Linked DNA regions of Homo sapiens: all the other regions are linked to region 1. The links come from fine-mapping of genetic effects on gene expression. A gene starts in region 1. Each other region holds a variant in brackets. All regions are shown on one strand. Distances are between the middles of the regions. Region 1 holds the start of CAPZA3 (capping actin protein of muscle Z-line subunit alpha 3). Region 2 overlaps PIK3C2G (phosphatidylinositol-4-phosphate 3-kinase catalytic subunit type 2 gamma). Region 3 overlaps PIK3C2G (phosphatidylinositol-4-phosphate 3-kinase catalytic subunit type 2 gamma).

Region 1 (6,357 bases):
CAGGCGTGCACTACCACGTCTGGCTAATTTTTGTGTTTTTAGTAGAGACGAGGTTTCAACACATTGGCCAGGCTGGCCTCGAACTCCTGACCTCAGGTGATGCACCTGCCTCAGCCTCCCAAAGTGCTGTGATTACAGGCATGAGCCACCACACCCGGCCTTGTGGTAGTTTGTTAACAAAATCTTCAGGAGTTTCTACATGTAAGATTGTGCCATCAGTGAATAGAGATAATTTTGCTTCTGCCTTTTTAATTTAATTGCCTTTTATTTTCATTTCTTGACTAATTGCTTTGGCTAGGATTTCCAGTACCATCTTGAACAGAAGTGGTGAGAGTGGGCATCCTTGCCTTTTCCCAGATCTTAGAAAAAAATCTTTTCAGTTTATTTTATATGATATTAGCTGTAAGCTTTTCATATATGGACTTTAATGTGTTAAGTTCCTTTTATACTTAATTTACTGAGAGTTATCATGAAAGGGAGTTAAATTTTGTCACATGCTTTTTCTATATTTTTGAGATAATCATGTGATTTTTATCTCCATTCTGTTAATGTGGTGTATCACATTGATTGATTTCTGTATGTTGAGCCATCCTTGCATGCCAGGGACACATATTATTTGGTCATGGAATATGATCCTTTTAAAGTGCTATAAATTTGATTTGCTATTATTTTGTTGGGGAATTTTGCATCTATGTTCATCAGGAATATTGGCCTAAAGTTTTGTTTTCTTGTGGTGCCTTTGTCCAGCTTTGGTATCCAGATGATGTTGACCTTATAAAATAAAACTGGAAGTGTTCCCTCTTCTATTTTTTAGAAGCATTTCAGAAGGATTGGTATTAATTCTTCTTTAAATCTTTGGTAGAATTCACCTGTGAAGTCATTTGGTCCTGGGCTTTTCTTCGTTGGGCAGTTTTTGATTACTGATTAAGTCTCCAAACAGGGTCTCACTATGTTACCCAGGCTGGTCTCAAACTCCTAGCCCCAAGTGATCCTCCCACCTTGGCCTCTCAAAGCATTGGGATTACAGGTACAAATCACTGCACACAGCCTCTCAGTCTCCTTTTTGTTATTGGTCTGTTTAACCTTTCTAGTTCTTCTTGGTTCAGTCTTGATGGGTTATATGGTTCTTGAAATTTCCCTTTTTTTTCTAGATTGTCCAATTTTATGGTGTATGATTGCTCTATGTGTTTTTCATTTTTGTGAGATCTGTTGTAATGTCTCCACTTTCATTTCTGATTTTATTTGACTCCTCTCTCTTTTTTCTTACTCTAAGTATTTGTCAATTTTATTTAACTTTTCAAAAAAACAAGTCTTAGTTTCCTCAATTTCTTCTAATTTTTTTCTTTTCTATTTTAGTTATTTCTGTGCTAATCTGTATTATTTCCTCCCTTCTGCTAACTTTGGGCTTATTCTCCACTCTTTTTATAAATCACTAACATCTAATACAGTTACCATTATCAGTCTGATATAATTAGACATCCAATCCTAGGTTTAATGTTAGCATTTCTGTATGCTCAGGAAATTATTCTAAACTGATATCCTGGTATTATTTCAGATTTTCTCAACAACTAATTTTACCTTCTACTGAAATGCTCTCCATCTTGATTGTAAATATAGTTAGTATAATTAATTGCTTTTCTTCTTAAGAGACTAACCTTTATATGACAATTACTGACATTGGATTAAGTTCCACCTAGGATAGGATAGGCAGGGGGTGGATGTCATCTTACCTTAAAAATCTGTTTCACATGAATATAACTGCACCGAATATCTAATTTTTCAAGTAACCTCTGAGTTTTTTCTAGGTTAATTTTTCCACCTCTGAAGTCATCCTGAATCTTTGACAAAAACCATGTAGAAGCACAAAAAAGTTAAGGAAATTCTCACAGAAAGTCATTGAATATTTAAAATTCCTAAAGAAACATTTGATTTACTGTATTATTTTTATTTTTAAAGAATATGTTTAAAGTAAATTATAGTATAATTGTATGATAAATATTTTTTAAAAAACAAAATTAAGTAGTTACTATGCTATGGTAAAGGTATGAAAGGGCATAGCACAGTAAAAATACAAAAAAAAGAATTAAAGTTAAAATTTGAGAATTGAAGTCATTACTTAGAACATACATTAAAACATTATAACAATCTATTGCCTGAAGGCATGAAGTTGGAAGGCAGCTAGACTTCAAGATCGCCTCTCACCTGACCTCTCTGTTTTAGTTCTCTCTTCCAGAAAGGTGAGCAAATTAACCCTGAATCTTAAGGAAAGTGGAAGCATTAGATGAATTCCTAATATGCCACCGAACACAGTTTCTGCTACTTAGTGTTCAATAAATAGTAACCATGACTGATAAAGTTATTATTACTACATTAGTCCAATGCCCAGCTACACACACACTCAAGACAGTACCATCAAAAAGCATCAGAAATACCATGGTGAGTGTATATTTGGTATGAAAAACGAAAAAAATTTTTAAAAGCTTACTTATCATAGATAAACTACAAAAACTAGGACACTTCCATTTGAAAAACTAAGATCGAAATGAGATAATGACAATTATCACTAAAATTATAAAAGGTATAGGTAAAAATTGTGCAAAACTACTAAGTTTCAGATTGTTAGAACGAATTAATGAGATCTCCTTAAATTTAATAGTTATGACTTAATCCAGCAAAGCTCATGTTCTTGTAAGAAAAAGATACCAGAATGCAGGGAAAGTTAGAAAAGCTCAGAACAAACAGGGAAAAGCAGTTCAACTTAAATGAAGAGGACTTAAATTCAGAACTCCTCGAAAAGAATAACAGCATCAAGTAAAGAGGATAAGTAGGAGAAAGAAGAAGAGGAGCAGAAAGAAGCTCTCAATGGATATCTCATTTCCATAGTTTCATGACCTGTAGAGCCGTTTCTCCTCACTTAGAAGTCTTTCCCCAGTAGGTGCTGTCATGGGTTCCAAATACAATTAACTCTGCCCCTTTGCAGAAAATAATTTCTTGATACTCATCAGCTGTTACCACTTTTCTAGGGAGAAAGCAGAGAACACACAGTGGTTTTTTTTGCCTTCGTTCTTTGAAGCTAGCTCACACTTAACCATAGAAACAGTATGCAAGATGTGGTACCTGCACTACCCTGCCCTTGAAACTGTTTGGCTTCTTACGTTCTGACCACCTCCAAACCCACAATATTTGAAAACACAGCTTTCCCTGATGTCTGGCATTTTTCCATGAACTGCCATTGTATCTCCTTTTATTTTTTACTACTTTGTTTAAACCCCTCAAACCTTTCATCATAATATGCTTCCAGTGGGTTTGGGCAGCTACTCTGAGAGCCTGAGTATAAATCAACACCATTGTGATTCCTGAAGTTGCAAAGTGCTGTCACTCTTGAAACTTTGGGCTGCTTCTCTAGATCGTTGACAACATATAATGCACACAGAGACACACCACTTTCGAAGAAGACTGTTCAGGAGGCTAAGTTCTTAAAATCTTCAAAAGAGGTATAGCTGGTTGGCTGGGCACCACACTGTCAGGTGACTGTCATTTTTTCCTTTTGGTCTGAATTCCCATTGTGATATCATCAGAGGTTCCACACTTCACAAGGAAAGCTTCTTATGACCTCATCAGGAGGCTCAGACCTTGCCAGACTGCCTGCTTTCATGGATAGACATAAAAACCTTCAGCTTGAATGTTAACACCTTGATGGGAAAGGTGGCTCATGGAATGTTTTCTTATCCTTTGAACACTCCTCATTTCAGAAGCTTTGCTTCTGTTGCAACCAAACATGACACTTAGCGTGCTGAGCAGGAAGGACAAGGAAAGAGTAATTCGCAGACTGTTATTACAGGCCCCTCCAGGGGAATTTGTAAATGCCTTTGATGATCTCTGTCTGCTTATCCGTGATGAAAAACTTATGCACCACCAAGGTGAGTGTGCAGGCCACCAACACTGCCAAAAATATTCTGTACCACTCTGCATCGATGGAAATCCAGTACTCTTGTCTCACCACAATGTAATGGGCGACTACCGATTTTTTGACCATCAAAGCAAACTTTCTTTCAAATATGACCTGCTTCAAAATCAGCTGAAAGACATCCAAAGTCATGGTATCATTCAGAATGAGGCAGAATACCTGAGAGTTGTTCTTCTGTGCGCCTTAAAACTGTATGTGAATGACCACTATCCAAAAGGAAATTGCAACATGCTGAGAAAAACTGTCAAAAGTAAGGAGTACTTGATAGCTTGCATTGAAGATCACAACTATGAAACAGGAGAGTGCTGGAACGGACTTTGGAAATCTAAATGGATTTTCCAAGTTAACCCATTTCTAACCCAAGTAACGGGAAGAATATTTGTGCAAGCTCACTTCTTCAGGTGTGTCAACCTTCATATTGAAATATCCAAGGACCTGAAAGAAAGCTTGGAAATAGTTAACCAAGCTCAACTGGCTCTAAGTTTTGCAAGGCTTGTGGAAGAGCAAGAGAACAAATTTCAAGCTGCAGTCTTGGAAGAATTACAGGAGTTATCCAATGAAGCCCTGAGAAAAATTCTACGAAGGGATCTTCCAGTGACCCGCACTCTTATTGACTGGCACAGGATACTCTCTGACTTGAATCTGGTGATGTATCCTAAATTAGGATATGTCATTTATTCAAGAAGTGTGTTGTGCAACTGGATAATATAAAGAATTGCTCCTGGTAACTATCTTGATTTGACTTGTTTGTGTTTCTTGGGAATGGTTATTTTCCTAAAATTGAGCAATCTGTAGAGATGTCTCTCACTTAGCCAATGCAAATTTAAATGGGAAAAGTGTAGCAAGTAATTTTACTTGGGGAATATTTATGAACAAGGCAAGAAAGTGTAAAGTAACTGTGTTTCATGGTGGTGACCATCATAAAGACCAAGACATTTGTTAGAAACTAAAATAGTTTTATAGAATCTGGGATTCCAGAAATAGTATAGAGGTGGCCAGGGTTAAGGCTGTGTGTGGGTGTGTACGTGTGTGTGTGTGTGTGTGTGTGTGTGTGTGAGAGAGAGAGAGAGAGAGAGAGAGAGACTTTTGACTGTTTCGAACTGAAAAGGTATACAAATGAATATCACTCCACAAATGATATTTTACATAACTCAATTCAGTCCTAGACCATCCACGAGATGGGGAATTTCAATAAAAGACATTAGGTTTGGATTTTCCACAAAACCAACAGATATCAAAAATCTAGCTCAGATGAAGGACTATTAGTAATTTTGGCTCCTCTTCCACTCTACTTTCTTCCCCTCAAGAATTGGGGTTACTCAAAATCCCTGGCTTGTCTGATAACTAACATGGTCTTCCAAGCCAACCAGAGAAGCCTGACTTCCCAAACTTTTACAGCCAGGCTTTTGTGAAGTCGTCACTGTAAACACTTAGAAGTACTTATTACATAACATGGCTTGTGCTAAATATTTTGCATAACATTTTTCATCACTAATCTGGTACTAGTATTATCTCCGTTGTACCTAAGAAAAACCTAAGTTCTCAAGTTGTTCACATCTTCCAGACACATAGTGTCACAGTTCACTTGTGCTGCTATAACAAAATACCATATATTGAGTAACTCACAAATAACAGGAATTTATTGGTCGCAGTTATGGAGGCTGTGAAGTCCAAGACCAAGTTGCTAGCAGATTTAGTGCCTAGTAAAGGTGTGTTTCCTCATAGATAGGACTTTCTGACTGTGACCTTACATGGTAAAAGGGGCAAAGCAGCTCTGTAGAACTTCTATTAATGGCACTAATATCGTTTATGAGGGCTCCACTCTCATGGCCAATCACCTCCCAAAGTCCTCACCTCCTAATACCATCACCTCGGGGACTCAGTTTCAACATATAAATTTTGAGGGACACAAACAATCAGACCGTACCACATAGTGACAAGTGTATCTGACTTAGTGCTCATGCTTCAGGGTACAACAGTTCCCCATGGAAGCCTATTTCATTATGAGTTATGGACTCTGATGTACATTGATTTTGCCAAGCATTCCACCTTAAAGGATATCCCAGAAGAAATGGAACTTGTGACAGCTGTTTTCTAGCCAGAGTAAATCACCTATACACTCACCCTACCACTATTCCTAGCAATGTTACTGACCACTGGTATCTGCTCTTTCAATAAATTCCCAAATGTAAAACTCTTTAACAAGATTACAGTACAGCAGTAGGTAGGCCCCATCCTCCAATTCTGATTTATCTAAGAAGCAAAGTGTTTTGTATTTTGTGTTTATGCAATTGAAAAACAGTTCTAATTCTACTTATTAACATTGGAGCATTCAGATCCCGTGCAAGAATTTCTAAACCTCAAACCTCCCCAGCTGATGATTCTTAGAG
Region 2 (6,357 bases), 93 kb before region 1:
CATCCACAGGATCCTCCACTCAGAAATATTAAAAAACAAAAACAAAAACTCCCCAACTCAGGCTTGCTAAGCAAATTTTCTTTCCCTCACTATCACCTCCAAACTTATCCAAAATTAACCCACATGATCTGCTTTCCCTTCATCTCTCCCTTTCACCCTTGAATGCTTTGCAATGTGGATTCTGACCTTTATTGATAGTACTTTATTCAAGGGGCATCAATAGACTCCTAACTGCTAAATCCAAAGAGCCCTCAGGCTCTCGTGCCTGGATCAGTTATACAGCAGCACTACTGACCACAGCCCCATTCCTGAAACCTCCGTTTTGCTTTTTGAGTTGTACCTTTTCTTAATTCTCTTCCATTTTCTCTACCACTTATTTCTCTACCACTTATTTCCATTTCTCTACCACCTCTCTCATTTTCCTTCATTGTTATTCTTTCTCTTAAAATATTATTGTTTACTGAAGTCACATGATCCATCCTCATCTCCTCTTCCTGTACATACTCTCACATTTATCTTGTGGATCAACAAAGTTTTATTTATCACCTATAGGTAGGTTGCATCTGAATTTACTCCTAAAACCCTGGCTTCTCTCTCTCAAGCTTTTTTTTTTTTTTTTTTTTGAGATGGAGCCCTTCACTCTGTGTCTAGCAGGCTGGAGTGCAGTGGCGCAATCTCAGCTCACCACAACCTCCACCTCCCAGATTCAAGCAATTCTCCTGTTTAAGCCACCCGAGTAACTGAGATTACAAGCTCCCACCACCACATCCAGCTAATTTTTGTATTTTTAGCAGAGACGGGGTTTTGCCGTGTTGGTCAGGCTGGTCTCAAACTCCTGACCTCAGGTGATCCACCGCCTCAGCCTCCCAAAATGTTGGGATTACAGGCGTGAGCCACCATGCCCGGCCTCTGTCACACTTCTACCTGATTACTGGGGAGCTCCATCTGAATGTCTCATAGGCACTTTTAGACCAGGCTTTCCTCCATTCATTCTTTCTTTTATAGATGGTACCTTTGGGGTCGAAACTAAGAAACTCTTTGTCTAGCACTGAGTCTCAAAGATTTTCTCTTATAGTTTTTTCTAAAAGTTGTATAGCTTTACATTTTACATTTAAGTACATTACCCATTTTGAGTTAAATTTTTAATAAAATGTGATGTTTAAGTCAAGGCTCTTTATTTCCCCACTGTGGATACCAATTATTCCAGTACTATTTGTTGAAAAGGCAATTCTTCCTCCACTGAATTTCTTTTGCACGTTTGTCAAAAATCACTTGGGAATATTTGTGTTCTTATACTCTTTTTGTTATCCCATACTTAGCCATATTTTCAGATCACATCAGACAGCTTGTCATTCCCTGAATGGACTGTAGGATTTTGTGATAGAACTCATGCCACCATTCACCTCTCTCTGCCCTTCTCTGCCTGCTTTGAGACTGACCTCAGATGTGAACTCTGCAAACACTGTCACCTCGTGGACTCACACCACACTTATAATCCTTTCTTTAGTCCTACACGGTTTTTCTTCTAGTATATCATAAACTTCTCCAGGGCGGGTTAAATGTCTTATCCTTTTTAATACTTTTAACACTTAGTTACCTCTAAAATGATGTGTAATAAATATTCGGGGCAGTTTTATAAGTGACACTGTGTGTGTGTGTGTGTGTGTGTGTGTGTGTGTGTGTATAAAATGTAAATACATGTATATACTGCATATATATATAGAGAGAGAGAGATTCTCTAAACTGGTAAGGAAAAATATTTTGACACTATTATTTGTCATGATGTCAACAGTGAGAAGCATACACTTCCCAACAATATATCACTGTTTCTTTTCATACTTTTTGAGTACAAGTCTCCATGCCTCACTATCAAGAAACTTCTCAGACCCTGTGTTAGGCATAAGCATTTTCAGTATAAGAAAACATATAATAACAAGAAACCACTAACAATTCAGAACAATTTAAATAAACTTGTGTTTTATTTCAAGCTTTATGTATTATAAGAAAACAGTAGTAAATTATATTCATGGAAAATTATTTTATAATTCTTGCTGTGCACATAACTTTTCTGAGGGCTTGCAATACCTAGGTCCTCACACATCCATAACCCACTGATTAAAACTCACTACAAATCTTTCTCAATTGATCTATACTTGTAGCATGAATAGACACTTTATACTTTGGACACATTTTAAATTGCTTCGAAAGCCATGGTCCATGCATAGCCAATTCCGATGAGAACATAGTCCAATCAAGCAGAAATTTGAAGTAGTGTGTGTATAAGTGATGATTTTAGTAGTAGTCATTAGGACAGTAAGAGGTTTCTAATCATATAAACAATTCTGGCAAAGAAGCTGGGTGAATTCCAAGAGCCAAAAGGAAAAAAAGGCAACAACGGTTAATTTAATTTTTTTCATTCTATGCCTGTATCAACACAACAAGAATATTTATAAGAAATGCAAAGAAGCACACTAGATGTTAACTCTGATTTTACTGTCTCTTGCCCTCAGTTGTGATGTAGGATCCCATCTTTGTGTCAAACTCCTCGATCACTTGTGTGCAACCTCAAGAG[C/G]ACCTTACTAGATGTCTTTACCAATAAGCCCAGTGCTTACTAGAGAGCCCAGTGAGTTATCACAGGGCATCTACCTTGTTTTAAACTTTTCCTCCACTTCCGCCGCCTCACTGAGTACTGCTGCATCAACCACTCACCACAGCTGGGATTTCTCAAACTGTAAAAGCCGTGTACTGTTCTTGAAGTGGGAGAGGATGACCTCACTCTCCTCTTTATATAAATCTCTCAGAGGAGTACAAAGAAGATATTACACTGCATACCAATGTCTTACAAAGCCTTTTGTGAAAATAGTTCTTTTTATTTTTATTCCTATCCTCCTTTCTCCTTAATATCCAGAGATGAGAGGGGCTGGGTCGGGGACACAGAAAAGTGACAGAGTCTCCACCCTTCCCATACTAAGGCTTTGATGCAGGGCCAAGCTTGTCTATTTGACACTTCGCAGAGTGAGCCCCAATAGGCTTCATCAGCAGTCTCCCTGAAAACCCCTGTCATGTACAAATCCCAGTGATAGGCATGGCTGGTCTCAAGATGGGTCTGGGGCTGGGGGTGTGAGTGCTCAGGGAACTGCCATACAGCTTGAAGAAGCAGAGGTGGGATTCCGGGCTCCAAAGCCTCTTTCCACGCCACTACTTTTGCCATCTTCTTAAAAACCATCATTTTTCACACAATTCATTAGAAATACAGAATTTCTACCCTATGACAGAATTACATGCTTATAATCAATATATTTTGTATATTGTAACCTTTTCTTATATATTATTCTGTTGTAAGGTGTAAAGGGAAAATTAGAAAGAACAGAACAGGAACGTTCTATGCATTTTACATCCCTTAAAATCTCCTGCAGAATATACAGTGATTACTTAGCACAATGCCAAGTATATGGCACACTCAGTAAGCTATAGTTATTGTTATCTGTGTTATAATATTATTGCAATTTCAACATGATGAAAATTGTATTTGTAAGTGAAGACAATGTGACCCAGAGGTTACACAACTAGATGTCAAGCCCAGAACTGCCTGATTCCAAAGCTCATGGTTACCGCACTACACTATGCTGTTATTCCTACCTGTCTCCTCCCACGCAGTACCCCTGTTCTCGCTTTTGAACTCTTTCTTTCATTATCCTGCCTCCTCTACCACTTCCCACAAGCACTAGAGACACTTCAGTTCCTATCTTATTGTCCTCTCATTTCAATCATGAAAATACACTTTAGAATTATTTACTAGACCCTTGTGTCAACTAATGTTCAGTAAATTCTTGGAATGTTCAGTATATGTTAATAGATATTAATTACCTTAAGTGTTTTCTATTAGACGTAATAATTCCAAACCCACACATTTAGTTATTTGTCAGAAGGTAGTAAAGACTTAACTCATGCCTATAGGTAAAAATTATTAGAAAAAGAAATTAAAAGAGCTATTTATTTTTGGTTCTGAGTATGTACCAGAACCATTTTTTTTTGTTCTGAGTATGCAGAATATATATTAAATCCTTTGACGAAAAGGTCTCAAAGAATATAATCATCTCTGTACTTCGCTAACATTAGCCACTAATTATTCTTTGCTCAGTTGAAAAGAGTACTTACTATTTAACAACATCATGGATGCACCAAAGCAATCAGAATAGATATTTATCATCTATAATGTGCAATGATTACAGGTTTATAAAACTTCAGTCACTTTTAAGAAAATAACTTTTCTTAATGAAGCAGAGGGAAAAAATATATGAAGTAATAAAAACTTTGGAAGTTCAAATGTTTGTATTTTAACCAGGAAAGCAATTAACTCCTAAAGTCATTTCTTGAAGCTTTCAGCTTGCTAAATACCTGGAAGACTCAATTCTGTCTGGAAGGGTTTTCTCCAGTCAATTGATGCAAAATACTAAGAAACAACTGTTCCTTTTTGTGTATTTGATGGATCTTTTTCAGCTATAATTTACTGGTGTCTAATATGTTCCAGGCTTTGTAGCAAGGCTTATATTCATTATCTCATTTCTTCCTCCCTATAATGCTAAAAGGTAAGGATTATTATCATCATTATACAAATGAGAAAACACACAGTTGACAACAGATTCATGAAAATATAAATTATTGATATGTTTTTTAAAAACTTACAATTTATGACTTATTCATGCAATTCACAGAGTCCTTAGCCAGACTTCCCCATTTTTCTGCATCATATACAGTCACACTTTGAGGGTTCCTTTCTGTTTTCTCTGTAAAATAAGAGAGGAGTTCATCAGCTGAACATGATGTAGGAAGAAAAATGGAGAATAGTTCAGACAGCTCAAAATACCCACTTAGAGAAAAGGAAAAGGAGTTTACTCTGAAGTCCTAGAAAGATTTCCAGGCAGCATTGGGCATCCAGTTGTTAAAAAGCATGAATTACAGTGGTAGGGTTCTGAGATTTTTTAAGGCAACTCTTAAAATCCTTTATTATCCCAGGAAAACTCAATAGATGAAATGAAATTGTTTCATGCAGATTTTATTTAATGAACATGTATTTTCATAATTAAAACATCAGTAATTTTGAATAAATAAAAGTAACCACAGTATTACTCCTGCATATGTACAAGAAAATATCATTGTGAATGAGCAACACCAGAAAACTAAACCATAATCTCCTGTATGGAATGAGAGTAAAATTCTGGAAGAAGAGGTAGCCAAGAACACTCACATGGATCAGGGTAGACCGCATTCGCATATCATATTGTATCTCATGCCCTTTGATTGAACCTATTTACTTGGTAAGTGAATCATTGTTCAGAGTCACTAACAGATTGACCTGGAACTGAATTTCATTGATAACGTAATGAAAGGTAAGCCTATGCTGTACAAAGTACTGGAAGCTAAATCCATGCTCACAGGGGAGGCCACCCAGTGAACTCAGAGGGCTGCCCTCTCAAGTTGTCTCTTCTGCTTCTTTTTGGCATATATTGAGAAAGTTTCTATCTTGTGACTTGGCTGTAAAAAGCAGGCAAGTTTGTAGCAGCATATGAAATTCCTTTTCTAAATGTGTTCTAAGACATTTCCCTGGTAACCATGCCAGATTTCCACTCAGCTCTCTCCTCCTTTCATGATAAATAACTAATTTCTTAGCGGTACTATGCCTTTACGTTGCTTTACCACTGCAGGTTGCCGATGGACCTGTAACTTACTTCCTGAACATTATAAAAGGACAGCTGACCAGATTCCTTTTGAAAAAAAAAGTCACAAAAAAAGAACAAGACGTGAAACTGTATATACAGCATAATTACAAGTCAGATTCTGAATAAGTGATTATATATAGAAAACAAAAAGAACATCAAAATGTTAACTGTAATTGTCTCCCAATGGTGAAAATTCCAATTATTTTCTTCCTTTTTGGTATTTTTTTTTGTTTCATGCAGATTTTATTTAATAAGCATGTATTTTCATAATTAAAAATTAGTAATTTTGAATAAATAAAAGTAACCACAGTATTATGCCTGCATATGCACAAGAAAATGTCATTGTGCTGCATTTAAGTAGCACAGGAAAATCATAGAAATTGGTCTGTTTCATGGCCACAGAGATGGGAACCATAAAGACTGGAGATTCCAAAAGAGAGAAGAAACAAGAAGGAGACCAAGGGTAGAAAAACTACCTATTGGGTGCTACGTTCACTACTTAGGCAACATGATCATTAGAAGCCCAAACCACAGCATCATGCAATATACCTCTGGTACAAACCTGCACATCTATTCCCCTGAATCTAAAATTGAAAAAAAAAAAAAATAGTCTGCTTTTCCTCATTAACCTTCAACA
Region 3 (6,357 bases), 200 kb before region 1:
CATTAATTCTATAACATAGGAATAGGTTTACATTTCAGTGGACTGATAAATTTTATCCTAACTGAAATTTCTACATCTTACAGGAATAGATGGGATTTTGTTTCACATATGAAGTTTCTTTTCATTTATAGACAAGTTTAGGGTAATTCTGAGGTTTAAAAAAATTGCTCAGAAGTGAGCCATGAAAATCATATAGAAAAGATACAGAATTTTATTTTGTTGGATCTACTGAAAATTTAGACTATGATAATGTTTAAGCACAACTAAAATTTGTTTCTTTAATATTACTTTATATTTTATTTAATTTGTATATGTTTCTTTTGTGTATTTAACTTTCTGTTATGGTGTTTCTGCATCTGATTTCTAATAATGGTGACTATGGACAAAAGAAATGTGTTATCTCATGAACTTGAGCATAACTACAGAAACCTCCCAAGAGAAATTAATTTGATCCATCATAATTCTCCTTATTGAAAAGAGAAAAGTATATTCATCATATTAGGAGAAAAAGTTTCAGGAAGTTGTAAAAAATTAATACTCTTCTAAAATTATTTCCGAAGTTCTACTTGATATAGTAAACACAGCATAGAGAGTAGGGTGGAAAAACTATTAGAAAACTGTTACATATAAAATTAAGATATTTTTCTGATTATGAAAATCTATGATATTGCTAAAACTCTACTAAAATATTGGCAATAGTGATGAGTGAGTGAGCAATATATAAAAAATGCTATCAGCTATCGCAAGGACAAAAAACCAAACACCGCATGTTCTCACTCACAGGTGGGAATTGAACAATGAGATCACATGGACACAGGAAGGGGAACATCACACACCAGGGCCTGCTGTGGGGTGGGGGAAGAGGGGTAGGGATAGCATTAGGAGATATACCTAATGTTAAATGAAGAGTTAATGGGTGCAGCACACCAACATGGCACATGTATACATATGTAACAAATCTGCATGTTGTGCACATGTACCCTAAAACTTAAAGTATAATTAAAAAAATGCTATCAAATTCAAAGATCCACTTACGGGTTTATGCAGCAAGAGAGGTTACATGGAGTAACAGAGTAAATTAAATCTTGGAATAAGGATGAGATTTTTCTGATAGATTTTTGAAGAGACAAGGAAATTTAGTGATAACAAGGTTCAGCTATGAGAACACTTGGCTGTTTGCAGACAATACTATTTAAAATTTGGTGAGTGCTTACTACATGCTAGGCTATGTTGTAAGCACTTGCACATGCTATGACCCATTTGATTCTCTCAACCATACCAAGAGTCAAGTGCTCTTATCTCCATTTTACAAAGAAGGAGATTAGAGAACGGAGAGATTAAGTCACCCAGAGTCATAGAACTACTATAGTTAAGTGGTGAAGCCATGATTTGAAACCTGGTTCACAGGCCCACAGTTTGTGCCTCTGCAAAAGCCTCTCTCTAATGTGAGCAGTTCACAAATGTGCCACCCTCCCTATGTGTCAGGCATTTATGTACATGTACATTTCCTAAGTTAATCCTCACAGCAATTCTAAGAGTTAGGTGGTTTAGAGATGAAGGATTGAGACATAGCAGGTCCAGAATTAGAACCTATGCTATATCTCATGTTTTCAACATCTCTTCTCCCAGCTTGGCTAAAGTCAAGAACTTGTAAAATAATTCATAGAATATAGGTTGGATAAGTCAATGAAGGCCAAATAAAAAAGGATTTTGAACCAAAATTTTAAAATTTAGACCTGATACTTTAGACATAGTCCGCAGTGTATGTATGTGCTCAATAAATTTTGTTGAAGAAATGAATGAATATAAACAGAAGTGAAGGTACTGGTATTCCAGCCTTTCCTCCAGGCATTGTGGTAGCATGGATTACAAAATAAAGTTTCTAAATAAAATAATCATAGCCAAAAAACTCGAGTGTTTGTTTTATTTTAAAGATTTTGCCTGCAATTAGACCCCCCTGTCCCAAACCTGCCACAAATTGACGAAGTTGTAGCTTTCTGATATAAATATCCACACTACTGAAAGGTCTCATTAACTGTCAGATCAGTGAAATTTTTCACTCCATTGTATTTTTACTGAAATAGCTAAGCATAAGCAACAAAAAGAAAACAATTATGTTTTATTATTTAAAACAAAAATAAGAATTTCCCTCAATAATCCATGACTTTTTAAATTGCTACTTGGTCTAACCTTTCACCAAATTAGTGTCAAATTGGCCTAAGGTATCAAAACTCTGTGTTCTTATTCAATGAGTGGTAATTCCTCCAACAGGGATGTTTCCAATCCTCTCTCTGCTATTCTCTGTTAGAATTGCTAATATTTCATCTCAGCCCTATCCGTATCTTAAATGACATGATAAAAAAACTGACAAAGGTGGGGGACGTGGGACCATCTTCTCTCTGGTCTTTTGTTTTCTTATTTTTCCATCCTTAGACTACAGTGGTCAGTATTACTTACATAATGATATGGTCTACTCATATCTTCCTTTCTGACCAGCGTTTTTACTGGGTCCAGTGTGAAATAAAATATAGCTACCTTTTTTCTCCTTCACTAAGCATATGCCAGTGAATTGGTAACATCTGCTTGCTTCTTAGCTTTTACCAGAAACTTTTTTCCTAAAGGGTCATCATACAAGGAAATTTTTTTTAATACTATAAGGTCAAACACATCTGTTCGATCATATCAAAATTTAGCAGAAAATGTACTTTTTATAAAGACTCTATAAATATCAGCTTCACTATGAATTGGCCTTTATGTTACTTTTAATGAATAATATTCCCCTCCAAATGTAATTTAGAATTAAACATTTCAGACAATATAGTTGACATTGTAAAATATCTTATCCTTTTCTCTCTATTGCAGCATGGTTATTCAAAGCCTACAATTATGCAGTTTCTCAAGCTGCCTCACAATGAAGGAAATTTATCTATTAC[A/G]GTAGAGAAAAAAAAAAGAAAATTCAAATGAAAATAAGTCGTTATAACTGCTGATTTAACCTGACAAACCATTTCTCTTCCTTCGAATGATTGCTACTGTTTTTGGTTTACAGGGACCGAGCTCCTTTCATTTTTACTTCAGAGATGGAATACTTTATTACAGAGGGTGGGAAAAACCCACAGCATTTTCAAGATTTTGTGGAACTTTGCTGTCGTGCTTATAATATTATCAGAAAGCACAGCCAACTGCTCTTGAACCTGCTGGAAATGGTAAGTCCCTTGGGAAAAAAAAACAAAAATAATAAGCTTCATTTATGCCTCTGCTTCAGTAGTCTATTTTTACTAATGGCTTGGAGTTCCCCAAGGAGCTATTCGGAAGAGAAAGGAATGAGAAAACTAAGAGTACCATTGTACAGCTTATAAACGTATTTCTTAATAATTTAATATGTTCGTTCATAGTTATTGTCTCAAACATTCCTATTCGTATCAATATTGATGCAGGTAGGGGTTATCCCACTATATTTTGACTAATGTTCAAGGACAGTAATTTTAAAAATAATGCCTTCAGTCATACTAGGCATTAGGATCTTTCAAAAATGCCTTATATATACTATCTCATTTATATATCATGACAACCTAATAGTGTAGACCAGGCAAGAATTTTCCCTGGCTGTCCATTCCAAACTCCACCTTTGATCACTTGCCAATTTCCCACATTAAGAAACTGAGAGTCAAAAGTGGAAAGTGAGTTGCTAGCAACTCAGCTTTTCGTGGTATGCATTAGGTGTACTGAGTCATGGTCCTACACACTCTCTTGTGACCAACAGGGGAAAATTTAAGGTTTTATTCCACTGTTCACTTTAAAGAGATGGAGACCAGATATGTACCATGAGGGAAGAAAAATCTGATAGAAATATCTTCTAGGAGAGGGATATAGTGATTCCTCTAGGCACATACGTACACACTAGTGATTGCAGCAAACTATACATGGGAAACATACATTTGGTCTATCAGCATGGGATTTGGAGTCTATGAAAAATAACTGATTTAGAGCTTCCAGATGACAATAATTCTACCAGATGTTGTTAAGGGTACAAACATGGCAGGCAGACCTTTCTGGGTTTCAATCCTAGTTTGGCATTTTACTGGCTACATTCTTCAGGACATGTTAACCCCCAAAAGACTATTTCCTTATCTGTTAAATGAAGATAACAACATCTACCTTGTAGAGTTAATGAATAAATGACCTAGTAGTGAATTCTTTGCATGGCCCAGGCATTGTGCTAAGTGCTTTGTGTGTATTAATTGATTTAAAATTCATAACAACCCTAACAGATCATTAACATAAAGCACTTAGCACAGTACTTGCCATTTAGTAGACTTCAATTCATTTATGTTATTATACTAGATCCTTGTTAATTTATAAGGCCACTGTCCAATGTAATATCCTCTAGTCACGTTTGTTTATATTTAAATTAATTTTTATTAAACAAAATTTAAAATTCCAGTCTTCAATTTCACTGATCACATTTCAAGTACTCAGTAGCCACGTTTGGCTAGTGGCATCATATTGGTCAGCACAGATAGGAAACTTCCATCACCACAGAAAAGTTCCATTGGTTAGTACAGAACAAATGTTGACTTTGTTGCAAGGAAGATTTGATTTGGATTCTTGTTTTAACTTTCAAACAACATATTCACCTTACTTCTCTCCACTTTGCCTTGAAAGATAAGTATCTCTAAAAATATTATAAACATGTCCTTCATATGCAAAGATATTGGTTTCTTCTTGTGTAAAGTGGATATATAAAGTTCTACCCATCTCCGAAATCTTCAAGATTACTTTTCAGTAATAGCCAAGGATTCTTATTGGTAAATTTGCATTCTATCTCCCAATTCTATTAGGCCGTTTTGCAAGTATGAGATGACTACGGTTTATAATGTGTCTGTACCACAAACAAACAAACAAAAAAACCCTATAAGGATTAAGTCTGTGATTCTGACCCCATTTAAATAATAAATATCCAGGTAGTATCAAGTCTATGTCTCCTTGGACTCTAGCAAGCTCTAGCTCATGAATTCATGAGCTCTTGAGTGTTTACCACAGGCTAGAAATTGCAAGGATACATTAACATAAGAGACCCAGAGTCTTAAAATTTTCAACTTAATGAGGAAGATAAAATTTATTTACATAAAAGACCGAGGTATCCAGCATTTCTAAATGCCTATAATGATATAAATAACTACATGTGAGGAATAGTACCCAATTTTAACAATTGCTTTAACCTGCTCCAGATATTTCAAAAATAAACCCAAAACAGAAAAGCACAAATATAAGTTATGCTGTTTCTCAGGTGACACTAAAATTATGCTGATGAAAACTGAGCATGTTAAAATAATGTGAAAGAACAGCTCTTTCAGAAAGCTATCAGTGGGCTTTTTTTCTCTTGTTTAATAAACTTTTCTACATACCTTAACAAAGCATTCAGCATAAGAGTCATGATATGTTAAACAATCACCAAAGAGAATGTATAGTGGTATTTTATTTAAAAGAAGTAACTGTGGTATTTTATTCATAAGTATTAAAATAATTTATCATTAATCACTTGTTGAAAATTTCTGGAATATAGTATATCCAAAAAAACTTCTATGCTCTAATTATTCAGCTCTTTTAGGCTAAGGAAGAAAATTTGGCAGTGGAAGGCACTAATCCAGAGTAAACATATAATCTTAGATTTAGGCTCTCACAGAAATTGAAATAGAGATCAGAAGCAATGTGGACCAATTAAACTAATGAATAAATACATGTAAAACAGCACTGTGTTATTACCTCAGTTTCTGTTCATTTACCTCTCAACTCTCTTCTTCTCAACTGTGTTATCTTATGGGACTGTAGATCATCAAAGCATTTAGTGAAAGTTTCAGGACCACCCTTTCTTTGGTATAGCTTCTTATAAAATAAAACCAAGTTTAAATTTGTGAAAGACTATTTTCTACTTATGTATGTAATCTATTCATTAATTCTGTCTCAACCCGACTCTTTTATGTTAAATTCTTTAAAAAGAATTCAGTCTACTTACCATGACCCAGTTACAACTTGAGAAATACTTGACATGGGTCATAAATTCTATCTTGTGCAAATGATCAGTCCCCAGGATTATGGGCCACAGACATTTGGTGGGTCCACTACAGAGTTAATGGCTCATCCTTAGTAAAGAGCAGCATGTCTCCAGATATCCATATTGCTTTTTATTTACTCCTGAGAAAAGCGGGGTAAAAAGTAATCCATGAAATTCCCATCTTGCTTAAAAGTAACATCTGTAGGAGACCCAAGAGTATTGCCGGCTGAGTTCCCGAAAATAAAAGCCTGTGTTTCATCAGCTTTTCTCTCATTAAAAAATCAATATCAGCTATTATGGAAGGC

The links. PIP is the estimated chance that this variant, and not a neighbour inherited with it, causes the effect.
Region 2: its variant is the best candidate, but not a certain one, in a credible set for the expression of CAPZA3 in sun-exposed skin (GTEx, PIP 0.82).
Region 3: its variant is the best candidate, but not a certain one, in a credible set for the expression of CAPZA3 in unexposed skin (GTEx, PIP 0.64).

What each region holds. Positions count from the first base shown.
Region 1 is chr12:18,734,491-18,740,847 of GRCh38, forward strand. CAPZA3 (capping actin protein of muscle Z-line subunit alpha 3) reads left to right here and starts at 3,629. Exons shown (of 1, transcript NM_033328.3): 1 at 3,629-4,698. The coding sequence starts at 3,779. The coding sequence ends at 4,678. It overlaps PLCZ1 (phospholipase C zeta 1), which reads right to left and starts at 3,522. Exons shown (of 15, transcript NM_033123.4): 1 at 3,442-3,522; 2 at 2,871-3,019; 3 at 1,731-1,854. The coding sequence starts at 2,881.
Region 2 is chr12:18,641,141-18,647,497 of GRCh38, forward strand. The region is part of intron 32 of PIK3C2G (phosphatidylinositol-4-phosphate 3-kinase catalytic subunit type 2 gamma); the gene reads left to right. It also overlaps a transcript of PLCZ1 not described here. Among named protein-coding and RNA genes, the nearest start is that of PLCZ1, 94 kb to the right of the region's middle. The variant C/G (reference allele first, on the strand shown) is at 2,573.
Region 3 is chr12:18,535,110-18,541,466 of GRCh38, forward strand. PIK3C2G (phosphatidylinositol-4-phosphate 3-kinase catalytic subunit type 2 gamma) reads left to right here. Exons shown (of 33, transcript NM_001288772.2): 25 at 3,047-3,203. Among named protein-coding and RNA genes, the nearest start is that of PLCZ1, 200 kb to the right of the region's middle. The variant A/G (reference allele first, on the strand shown) is at 2,934.